Regions from separate parts of the Homo sapiens genome. Here region 2 is linked to region 1. The links come from fine-mapping of genetic effects on plasma protein levels. A gene starts in region 1. The other region holds a variant in brackets. All regions are shown on one strand. Distances are between the middles of the regions.

Region 1 (2,914 bases):
GCTCTAATTCATGTAAATTTACCTAATTTACATAAATTGAAGGCAATCCAGTAATAGGGATTACAAATGGAGGAAGGAGATAGAAGTGCAAGTGTCACTTGCTACTCTGCAAGGCTTTAGCAATTGACTTACACTGAATTATTTGAGCACAAAAATTAGCAAAGCACCTATGAATCAGGGACTCTTTCAAAGTGACCTCCCAGAAGTTTGCTGCTGTGTTAACCTGTAGTGCTAGTGTAGTCCTTCAGATATTCTGTTAAATATAATACATAGGGCAGGCTTATGTTAAAATCACTTGAGGCTTGTGACTTTCGACTAAATACTTCTTCAGTAATTACTGAAAAGTTCATCGGCTGGTGCTACCGGAGAAAAGACGTGGAAAGCTCACCATTTACTAACGACAGCCAGGGTGTGCCCCACTCAGGGGTGCCGGCCCTCTGTTCTCCCATCCCTGGGTGGGCCAGAGCATCTTACTCTCTGCTGCCTTGGGCCTCCACTTGGGCTGGGAAGATAAGAAAGTAGTGGACCTTCCCCTTCCTTCCCCAAGACTGGGAAAATCTTTCCAAATCTTATTCCCAGTCTTCCAGATGCGAGATTAGAATGTACAACAGATCCTCTCAAGAACACTGGGAGACCGAGGGTGGGAGAGAAAACTCCAAGGGGGGCGAGCTGACTATAGAGGGAATTGCCTGAGCGGGAAAGGAATCTTCCAAAGCCACAGAAAAGCCTTGGTTTGGAAGAAAGCCGTAGCACAGCTGCATTTCCAACGGGAAGGTCCTGAGCGCACACACTTCTGGGTCCTCCCCGCTCGGAGCAGGTAAACCTCAGAGTAGCTGACCGGCAGCACCCACAGAGTTTCCTCCCCACCACCCGCCTGGCGACCAACTGCAGCCGAAAAGAAAGAAAGAAAGGAAAGAAAGAAAGAAAGAAGAAGGAAGGAAGGAAGGAAGGAAGGAAGGAAGGAAGGAAGGAAAGAAAGAAAGAAAGACAAAGAAAGAGGAAGGAAGAAAGAAAGAAAAGAAAGAAAGAGAAAGAAAGAAAGAAAGAAAGAAAGAAAGAAAGAAAGAAAGAAAGAAAGAAAGAAAGAAAGAAAGAAAGAAAGAGAGAGAAAAAGAAAAAGGGAGAAAGGCAACAGAGGAGAAGGTCAGGAAAGCCGGGAACAAGTCAGCAGCCAGAAACTCTCCAGCGATCTGCCAAGGGGGAGAGGGTAGTTGCGCGCCGGCGCTGGGGATGGGGTGGGGGCGCTGGGGCACAAGGGCGCAGGGGCGCACGGCCACCGACAGCCGGGTGCGCCTAGCTTGAGGCCGCGGAGAGGAGCCGAACTGGGATGGGTGGGGGGTCTTCGGCCTCAACACTGCCTGCCAGCCCCAGTGCGCCCAAGTCTCCCCGCCAGAGCTGCCCTTCTGGAGGGGCTCTTCGCACGCACTGCTTTCCCCATTCTTCTGGCTGGAATTCTCCGGCCGTCACTGCAGTGTCCAGAGATGCTGCGCTGTAGACCCGGGACCCCTTAGGCGCCTCTTCCCGTCCCTCTGCCAAAGCGCAACGCCTGTACTTTTCCAGCTCCCTCTTTCCCTCTTGAAATTGAAAGTTATTGAGGTCGCTCAGGGTTGTTGCTCCAGCAGTTTCCTTCCCCGCCCCCGAGCTCCCCCCCGCCCCCCACAGCCATCCCCCCTCCTCTCCCCCTCCCTGCCCTCCTCTCCCTCCCCCCTCCCTGCCCTCCTCCTCCTCCTCCCCTATGTGGTGCTCCCGGGAGCCCAGCCCAACACTGGAGCGTCTCCTGCTCGCGCACGCCAGAAGCAGCTCGGGGTCTCTCCGCCGCCCCTTGGCCATGGCCGCTGTGCCGACGGCGCCCGCTCCCCTGCGCTCCAGGGGCCCCCGCCGCTGCAGCCGCAGCCGCCGCAGCTTCTGAGCCCAAGGGGCCGCCGCTGCAGCCGCCGCCGCCGCCGCTCGCCCGCCCGGATCCCGCCTGCGGCAGTTGCCGCACAACATGCTACCTGCGGCCGCCCCGGCGGCTCCTGGAACCCCGGTTCGCGGCGATGCCAGCCACCCCAGCGAAGCCGCCGCAGTTCAGTGCTTGGATAATTTGAAAGTACAATAGTTGGTTTCCCTGTCCACCCGCCCCACTTCGCTTGCCATCACAGCACGCCTATCGGATGTGAGAGGAGAAGTCCCGCTGCTCGGGCACTGTCTATATACGCCTAACACCTACATATATTTTAAAAACATTAAATATAATTAACAATCAAAAGAAAGAGGAGAAAGGAAGGGAAGCATTACTGGGTTACTATGCACTTGCGACTGATTTCTTGGCTTTTTATCATTTTGAACTTTATGGAATACATCGGCAGCCAAAACGCCTCCCGGGGAAGGCGCCAGCGAAGAAGTAAGTGCAGGGTTTTTTACGCGTTTGCTCCCTCCCGCCGCGTTCACCTGTCGGGTCGCTTTGCCTGTCCGGAGCCGGCTCCCAACTGCAGCGGTCCTCCCGCCCTGCGCCTCGCAGAGGAGATGCAGGTTCGGGCTTTGGGGGTATGGACGGCGTCTTTCACCCTTGCCTCTCGGCGCCCCTGCCTTCCGCAGCATCCTAGCCGGTGCGAGGGGCGGGCGGACGCGGCGCTAAGGTGGCTCCCGCCCCATGGTAACTTCAGGTTCGCGGGAAAGTTCGGTCCTGGGTTAGACTCGCACCCGGGATTTGTGCTTTCCTTTTGAGGATCGGACAGGGGCACCCAGCCGAAGGCACTTGGGACTCCCAGACGCAGGATGCCTCTGACCGCTGAGTAAATGACAAGGGAGGCGCGGCCGCGGTACCCGCTCACCTAGCGCAACCGCCTCGCGCGGGGAGACCTCGGCTGGGCCCTTAGGCTGGACTCCGGTAGCCGAACGCCCGCTACCCGGCCAGGAAGCCAGGGAGCGAGCG
Region 2 (2,914 bases), 100 kb before region 1:
GATTCAAGACCACGCAGATTTTAAGGTAAGTTTCAGCTTGGAAGAGGATCCTTCAGTGGCAGTAAGATTTACTTTAAGTTTCTTTACATTTATAACACACAATGAAGAGAAATCCTCAACATGAACCATTTTCTAAATGTTTTTCTTAGAAAACACAAAACTTCTAACAGGATTTATCATTCAGAAAATATAATGAAGAACTGAAATACAAAGAATTTTCACACTAGGTTATTAATTTCTAAATTATTATTCCTTGTTAAGTTATTATGCCTAGACTTTAAAATTATAATAAAAATAAATAAAAACCTTCTTAAGAATAAAAGTCTCTGGTAAATGAATGGCAAAACTCTGGTTTATCTATGATAATATTGATAATACAACAAGTTTGAGATTCAACTGAGTTCTAATGTGATTATAATCCTGAAAATCATATAGCAATATATGAGTGTGTGTGTGTGTGTGTGTGTGTGTGTGTGTGTGTGTATACATGCCTTTTTGCTTTTGCAATTCTTTAAGGGAACAGAACCATACTCACTATTGTGCATATAGTACCTAGCATAGCCACTGACATGAGATGGGAAGTTCATAAGTATTATATTAATTAGTTAATCAACCTTTATTGCATGTCTAGTGTGTGACCCAAACTACTTTGCACAGTGGTGAGTAAAATTATGAGACATTGCCCATTGTCTTCAAAGAGCTTACAGCTAAATAGGGGAGACAAGACCTCCTGCATAAAGCTATTAGAGATTCATTAGAGAATAAATATCTTGAGATAACAATGCAAGATGATAAATATGTGGTTAGGTGTGAACAACTGCACTTAATAACAGAACCAGACAATGGTGTTACATTTCATAAACTGTAACATCAGAATAGTTCTCTTCCTCTTGTATCCAAAACAGAGGTGTCCATATTACAAGCTATTTGCAGGGTTAGGGCAATTCCAACCTTGAAGTAGACACGGCTGAGCCTCTACTCACACCCCAACATGCTTCTTTGCTAACGATACCCAAAGTCTTGATTGAGACTAACAGGTGTGACAGTACTTATTTAGTTGCTGTCTGCCT[T/C]ATCTATGAGGCTAAAATGCTTTCTGATATCTTTAATACTGACATAATAGCTAATAATATAAGCAAACTGAAAGACTATCCCATTGTCCTTGCATGGTATTGGGCAGAATTTAGTGAGCCATACAGCCTGTCATCAAGATCTTTATACAAAAAGGCAAAAAGTTCTAAAAAGCAGATAATCCAGAAATAAATTACCTACTTTTCATGAGAAGTTTCATTTAAAAAAATTTAAAAAACACTTTTATTTGAAATCCGGTAAAATTGCAATTAAAGATAAAATAAAAACAGATTAGAGCATGGAGAATATAATTTGTATACTCAGATGGATGAAATTGCTTTGTATCTAAAATAGTGTGCTGAAAACAAAGTTCCTTGAAGATTTCCTTTTGTTTAATCTAAACCAGTAGTTTTCCAAGTGTTCTACAGAGAAGCTTCCAGAGTCACACAAATGTTTAATAGAAACATAATTTCTAAACATATTTAGACTATTTTAAAAACTAGAAAAACACACGATACAATATACAGTATATTTTAACACACTGGAGAGACTGTGATGCTCATCTCGACTCCTAGGTTAACTTTTTTTAAGTGGATATTGGAATAAAGCTTCTTATGCCATCTCTATGTATATTTTGAAACTCTTACAAATGTGGTATTCACTAGGAAGTTTATAACTTTATACTGTTCTTTTTAGGTGTATGCATATTCACTCTTGAAACAGTGGATGAATGAAGGGAGCACCACGGAGCACCTCAATGTTGTGCATGCAAAACAAATTATTCAAATCAATGGGCTGCTGAGACTTGACATTAGATAGTAACCATTACTTGTAAAGTCATATTTCAAATTTTTATTTTCATTAAAACAGCTTCATTGCTTTTGTGTGGTTTGTAAGTTCTATAAATTTAAATTTATAAGATAAATTTATACACATATTTTATCACTTCTCAAATAAATTGATATATACATTTTATTTATAAATCATATCCTTTACAAAATAAACTTATGCTAGTAAAATAAGCAGTAAGTTATTTTTCTTTAAAAAAGAACTTGCTTATAGTTGTTAATAGTCTAAAGTACCATAATATTTTAAAATATCATATATTATTAATTTGCCAAAAACAAATCTTATTCTGGCTCCATTTTTGTTTTACTCTTCACTCATAAAAATTGCCCTATATGAGATCAGTATGGACCTCAACAAAATTAATCATTTTCGTTGGATCACTATTCTCTCTGTTGAATATATTGTTCCCACCATCCCCTTCAATAATATCTTGGACTTCAGTGGCAATGTGTTTTCTAGTTTAATCCTATCTCTCTGATCATTTGTTTTCTTCACTAACATCTGGGGTATTTTTTCTCTGACCATTCATACATCAAATATTAATAGATGATATATGTGCCAGGAATTTACTCCTGCATTAATAAATGAATCTCTAAACCCACTTAATAGCATAAAACTACCATTTTATTTGACTTATGATTTGGAGCTAAGGTGTCCAAGAAGGGCTCAACGTGGTGATTCATCTTTAATCTTTGACATCAACTTGGATTCCTAGGGCAGCTGGGGAGCAACTTCTTAAAAGGTTTCTTCACTCACATGTATTGCACATAGGTACTCTTTGTGTGCATTCTCCCCCACCTCTCTCTCTCTCTCTCTCCCCAACACCTTTCCCCGTGCCTTGGACTTCTCATAGCATTGCGGTTTCAGGGTACTTGCAGTTCTTACATGGCAGCTGGCTTCCAAGAGACAGAAAGCAGTGGCTTTCAGACTGCTGAAGGGCCCGGCACAACATCATCTCCTTAACATGCTGTTGTTATTGTTGCCTCAGTGAGAGACT

Direction of the effects. Positions count from the first base shown, and alleles are read on the strand shown. Strength reflects both the effect of a copy and how common the allele is.
As copies of C replace T in region 2, the plasma level of the protein whose gene starts at base 1,765 in region 1 goes up (weak association).

The links. PIP is the posterior inclusion probability: the model's chance that the variant is causal. Protein levels are from antibody-based Olink assays in UK Biobank. Linkage for the fine-mapping came from a reference panel and not from the study's own genotypes, which makes the PIPs less certain.
Region 2: its variant is fine-mapped to the plasma level of the RSPO3 protein (UK Biobank, PIP 0.99).

The regions. Positions count from the first base shown.
Region 1 is chr6:127,116,907-127,119,820 of GRCh38, forward strand. It overlaps RSPO3 (R-spondin 3), which reads left to right and starts at 1,765. Exons shown (of 5, transcript NM_032784.5): 1 at 1,765-2,383. The coding sequence starts at 2,287. It overlaps LOC105377989 (a long non-coding RNA gene), which reads right to left. Exons shown (of 14, transcript XR_002956387.2): 4 at 1,995-2,914.
Region 2 is chr6:127,016,542-127,019,455 of GRCh38, forward strand. The region is part of intron 5 of LOC105377989 (a long non-coding RNA gene); the gene reads right to left. Among named protein-coding and RNA genes, the nearest start is that of RSPO3, 100 kb to the right of the region's middle. The variant T/C (reference allele first, on the strand shown) is at 1,071.